Regions from separate parts of the Homo sapiens genome. Here region 2 is linked to region 1. The links come from fine-mapping of genetic effects on gene expression. A gene starts in region 1. The other region holds a variant in brackets. All regions are shown on one strand. Distances are from middle to middle.

Region 1 (2,914 bases):
CTGGGCATCAACAGTGGATTGAGCTAGCAGCCTATGGGGCTTATCCATGGTCATTGCTATAAAGAGGGATCAATTAATCCTGAGGTGAGGAGTGTGCATGCAGTCAGAGAAAGCTTCACATATAGAAAGCAACATCTTTTCTATAGGTGGAGATAAGAAGAGCATTACAAGAAAAAGGCATGCATGAACAATAATGGCAGTTCGGGTTGACTGGGCTACGGAAGTCATGAGAAAAACTGGGAAATAAACAAGGCAGGCACAGCCACGATCTAAATCTGTAGGAAATCAGCAGCTTGGGGGTGGGGGCGGGAGTGAGGAAAGGAGGGTGGTAGGGCCCTGATCTGATGTCTGGTTTGTAAACGAAATCTGATAGCCATGCGAAGGGGGATCTCAGGGAACAGATTCGAGGCACAGTAACGGCTTAGGAAGTTACTCTGATAGTCCCGGCGAAAACGGAATTAAGGTGCTACTAAGTTAGTGTCAGTGAGGATGAAGAACAATTACAGGGATCTAATTCATGGTATTCGGCCTCTGACTGATTCATGGCGTAGGGTTGTTATTCAAAGTTATTCAAAGTTTTGGAGAACACAGGCCCTGGCGCAGGTATGAGGGGAAATGACAAGATTTGATTTAGACATTGAGTATGAGGGGCCTTCAAGGCGCTACATGCGGGTGTAGAAGAGGCAGCTGGAAACACACACTTGGAATTCAGGAAGAGGCCCGAGGACCAGGGAGAAGCCTGTGACACTGCAGCAGAAAGGAAAGGAGGTTGTCTATTTCTTTCCCTCAAATCTAGGACTGAAAACTTGCTCGTTTTCAGTCTCACCCTATCGTCAATATTATTTATTTATTTTTTATTTTATTGTATTTTATTACTTTATTTATGTTTTTTTTTTTTGAGATGGAATCTTGCTCTGTCACCCAGGCTGGAGTGCAGTGGTGCGATCTTGGCTCACTGCAACCTCCGCCTCCCGAGTTCAAGCGATTCTCCTGCTTCAGTCTTCCCAGTAGCTGGGATTATAGGTGTCCGCCACCGCGCCCAGCCTCATCAATATTTATTAGTGGACTGCAACTTCCATCCCTAACTCCCGGCTCATCCTAACATAAGAGGCACTGCCAGGTCGCCCTCAGTACCTCAGCGTGTCTGGGTGCGAGGCATCACAGCTGAACAAGAAGTCGGCGGCTCGCGGGTCACTGATCGTTCCCCCTTCAGCCACTGTGGAGGTAAGAGCACAGGGTGAACCTATCAAGCACCCTGGACCCAAAGCATCAGAGAGAGGAGGATGCTCCCCTCACCACCTAACCCGCTGCTTCCACTCAGCTTCCTACCCCAGAATTGCCTCAGATCCTGGCTAACGCTGCCGCAAAACCAACCGCGCTGCCCTTGAAACATGGCGTCGCCAAGCCTGTGGAGATGTGAGAGAGGAGGCCGCAGAGCTGAGATCCCTGATTGGTTCCAGGTCCAAAGTCAAGCTCGATGATTGGTTCTCAAGAGGAATGGCCGGGAAGGGCCTGAGGCCCTCAGATAAGGGACAGTCACTACCAGACTGAGCTGACTGGTTCTCGGGATCACTTAGGGGCCTCTCAGCCTTCCCCTGATAAGAGGAGGGCGGCGACTCGAGTTGGTGAGGGTTTTTTGTTTGGTTGGTTTTGTTTTAAATTTTGAGGTGGGGAGTTTTAAACCCTAAATATTAACAAAGTTACCATGCTTTATGTTTACAGGCATAGGGCAGATTCTGCAGCATCAAGTATTATTTTTGAAGCAAAATTCATTTCATCATTTCATCTATAAATGTTTCACTTTGAATCCCTGAAAAGTGAGGACTTAAAAAACATACACACAACCGCGACACCATTCTCACACTTAAAAGATAGTTCTTTAATATAGTCAAATAGCACCAGTGTTCAAATTTCTGTTTTACTCAAAATTGTTTTCCTTTTACAGTTTCCCACCTCTTACATCAGTTGTGATAAGTAGTTATATTTTTCTGGTGTTGTCTTCCTTTAAACATTAAAAAATTGTTTATATAAAGTTGTCCATAAAGTCTTTTACTTTTTTAATATCTGAGGGATCTCTAGTCATGGTTCTTGTTCTCATTTTTTTGTCCTTGTTTTTAAATTTTTCCTCCTACTTTAGTCACCTCTCTGACAATCTTTTTTTCATTTCTGATACTGGTCATTTGTGCCTTCCCTTTTTTTATTTCCTAATCTGATTAGAACTTCGTCAATTTTTTAGCCTTTTCAAAGAACATACTTCTGGTTTTATTGATATTCTCTTCATGTATTTCTTTTCTATATCATTAATTTTAGCTCTTTATAATTTCCTTCCACTTTTCTTTCTTTAAAATTGCTGTTCTTAGGCTGGGCGCAGTGGCTCATGCCTGTAATCCCAGCACTTTCGGAGGCCTAGGTCGGGGGATCACTTGAGGTCAGGAGTTCGAGACCAGCCTGGCCAGCATGGTGAAACCCCATCTCTACTAAAAATACAAAAAATATCCGGGTGTGGTGGCGCATGCCTGTAATCTCAGCTACTAGGGAAGCTGAGACAGGAGAATCGCTTGAGCCCGGGAGGCAGATGTTGCAGTGAGTTGAGATCACGCCACTGCACTCCAGCCTGGGTGACAGGGCAACACTCCATCTCAAAAAAAAAAAAAAAAAAAAAAAAAAAAAGGCTGTTATTTTTCTAATTTCTTGAACTAGATAATTGTTTTTGATCCTTTATTTTTCTAATATGTGCATATAAAGCTATAAATTTCCTTTGAAATGTGTGTCACATGTTTTTAAGAGGTCATTTTTTATTATTATTCAATTCAAAGTATTTTCAGATTTCCCATATGAGTATTGTGACTTGTGGATTATGTGAAATGTTTTTAAATCTCCAAGTACATATGATTTTCTAGTTATCTAGTTGTTA
Region 2 (2,914 bases), 650 kb after region 1:
AAAAAAAAAAGCAATCTCCATAACATAAAGGTGCAAGGGGAAGTGGCAAGTGCTGATGAAAAAGCTGCAGCAAGTTATCCAGAAAATCTAGCTAAGATCACTGAAGGTGGCTACACTAAACAACACATTTTCCATGTAAATGAAACAGCCTTCTATTGGAAGAAGATGCCATCTAGAACTTTCATAGCTGCAGAGAAGTCAATATCTGGTTTCAAAGCTTCAAAGGACAGGCTGATTCTCCTGTTAGGGACAGCTGGTGACTTTAAGTGGAAGCCAACGCTCACTTACCATTCCTAAAATCCTAGCTTTTAAGAATTGTGCTAAATCTGTTTTATCTGCGCTCTATAAATGGAACAACAAAGCCTGTATGATAGCACATCTGTTTACAGCATGGTTTACTGAATATTTTCAGTTCACTGTTGAGATATACTACTTAAAAAAAAGATTCCTTTCAAAATACTAGTGCTCACTGACAATGTCCCTGGTCACCCAAGATCTCTGATGAAGATTTACAAGGACATTAATCTTTTCATGTCTGCTAACAGCAACCCATGGAGCAAGGAGTAATTTCTACTTTCAAATCTTATTATTTAACAAATACCTTTCATAAGGCTATACCTACCATGATGTAATTCCTCTGATGGATCTGGGCAAAATAAATTGAAAGTCTTCTAGAAAGAATTCACCAATCTAGATGCCATTAAGAACATTTGTAGAGGCTGGGTGCAGTGGCTCACGTCTATAATCTCAGCACTTTGAGAGACAGAGGCGGGTGGACACTTGGGCTCAGGAGTTCAAGACGGGCCTGGGCAACATGGGGAGACCCTGTCTCTACTAAAAATAGAAAAATTAGCCAGGTGTAGAGGCCCATACCTGTGGTCCCAGCTACTCGGAGGCTGAAGTGGGAGGATCACTTGAGCTCAGGGGGTAGAGGTTGTAGTGAGCCGAGATCGCACCACTGCACTCCAGCCTAAGTGACAGATCAAGACTCTGTCTCAAAAAAAAAATTATAATAATTTGTGGCTGGGCACAGTGGCCATTAATTCCATCACTTTGGGAGGCCAAGGCAGGCAAATTGCTTGGGCCTAGGATTTTGAGACCAGCCTGGATAACATGGCAAAACTCCACCTCTACAAAAAATACAAAATTAGCCAGGTATGGTGGCATGTGCCTGTAGTCCCAGCTACTCG[G/A]AAGGCTGAGATAGGAGGATCACCTGAGTCCAGGGAGGTCAAGGCTGCAGTGAGCCATGAATTGTGCCACTGTACTCCAGCCTGGGCAACAGAGACTGTGCCTCAAAAAAAAGAACATTTGTGATTCATAGAAGAAGGCTAAAATATTAACAGGAACATGAGTTTGGAATAAGTTGATTCCAACTCTCATGAATGATTTTGAGGGGATTCAAGACTTCAGTGGAGGAAGTAACTGCAGATGTGGTACAAATAGCAAGAGACCTAGAATTAGGCTAGGCACGGTGGCTTATGCCTGTAATCCCAGTACTTTGGGAAGCCAGGGCAGGAGGATCACTTGAGTATGGGAGTTTGAAACCAGCCTGGGCAACATAGCAAGACCCTGGTCTACAAACCATTTTTTAAAAATTAGCCAGGAGTGATGGCTCAGGCCTGTGGCCCAGCTACTCAGGAGGCTGAGGTGGGAGAATTGCTTGACCCCAGGAGGTTGAGGCTACAGTGAGCTGTGATTGCACCACTGCATTCAGCCTAAGTGACTGAGTAAGAGAGAAAGAGAGAGAACTAGAAATAGAAGTAGAGCCTGGAGGGCTGGGAGCGATGGCTTATGCCTGTAGTCCCAGCACTTTGGGAGGCTGAGGAGGGCAGATCACTTGAGGTCAGGAGTTTGAGACCAGCCTGGCCAACCTGGTGAAACCCTGTCTCTACTAAAAGTACAAAAATTAGCCAGGTGTGGTGGTGGGCGCCTGTAATCCCAGCTACTCAGGAGGCTGAGACAAGAGAATTGCTTGAACCTGTGAGGCGGAGGCTGCAGTGAGCCGAGATCATGCCATTGCACTCCAGCCTTGACACAAGAGTGAAACTCTGTCTCAAAAAAAAAAAAAAAAAAAAAAAAAAAAAGAAGTGGAGCCTGAAGACGTGACTGAATTACTGCAATCTCATGATAAAACTTGAATAGGCCAGGCATGGTGGTTTATGCCTGTAATCCCAGGACTTTGGGAGGTTGAGGTGGGAGGATTACTTGAGGCCAGGAGTTCAAGACCAGCCCTGGGGAACATAGCAAGACCACATCTCTACAAAATTTTAAAATTAGCCAGGTGTGGCCAGGCACCGTGGTTCACACCTGTAATCCTAGCACTTTGGAAGGCCGAGTCAGGCGGATCACTTAAGGTCAGGAGTTTGAGACCTACTTGGCCAACAAAACCCTGTCTCTACTGAAATACAAAAATCAGCCAGGCCTGGTGGTGCATGTCTGTAATCCCAGCTACTCAGGAGGCTAAGGCACGAGAATTGCTTGAACCTGGGAGGTGGAAGTTGCGTTGAGCTGAGATCACACCACTGCACTCCAGCCTGGTGACAGGGCGAGACTCTGTCTCAAAAAAAAAAAAAAAAAAAAAATTAGCCAGGTGTGATGGCACAAGTTTGTAGTCCTAGCTGCTCCAGATGCTGAGGCAGGAGGATTGCTTGAGTCCAGAAGGTCAAGGCTGCAGTGAGCCATGATCATGCCACTGCAGTTTAGCCTGGGTGACAGAATGAGACCCTGTCACCAAAAAAAACAAACAAAAATCCAAGCTATGCTTATAACTCAAACTTTTTTTCATTATATCCCCATGAAGCTAATCCCAAGGTTTTGTTCTCTTCACTTAAACACTAAATTGAATCAGAAAAATATTTTTGAGTTTCTAAATGAATAAAATATTATTCTAGATCTACTATAACACGTTTCAAAT

Evidence for each region. PIP is the estimated chance that this variant, and not a neighbour inherited with it, causes the effect.
Region 2: its variant is fine-mapped to the expression of TERB2 in liver (GTEx, PIP 0.96).

What each region holds. Positions count from the first base shown.
Region 1 is chr15:44,955,198-44,958,111 of GRCh38, reverse strand. TERB2 (telomere repeat binding bouquet formation protein 2) reads right to left here and starts at 1,425. Exons shown (of 7, transcript NM_152448.3): 1 at 1,330-1,425; 2 at 1,135-1,216. The coding sequence starts at 1,393.
Region 2 is chr15:44,303,401-44,306,314 of GRCh38, reverse strand. The region is part of intron 1 of GOLM2 (golgi membrane protein 2); the gene reads right to left. Among named protein-coding and RNA genes, the nearest start is that of GOLM2, 16 kb to the right of the region's middle. The variant G/A (reference allele first, on the strand shown) is at 1,191.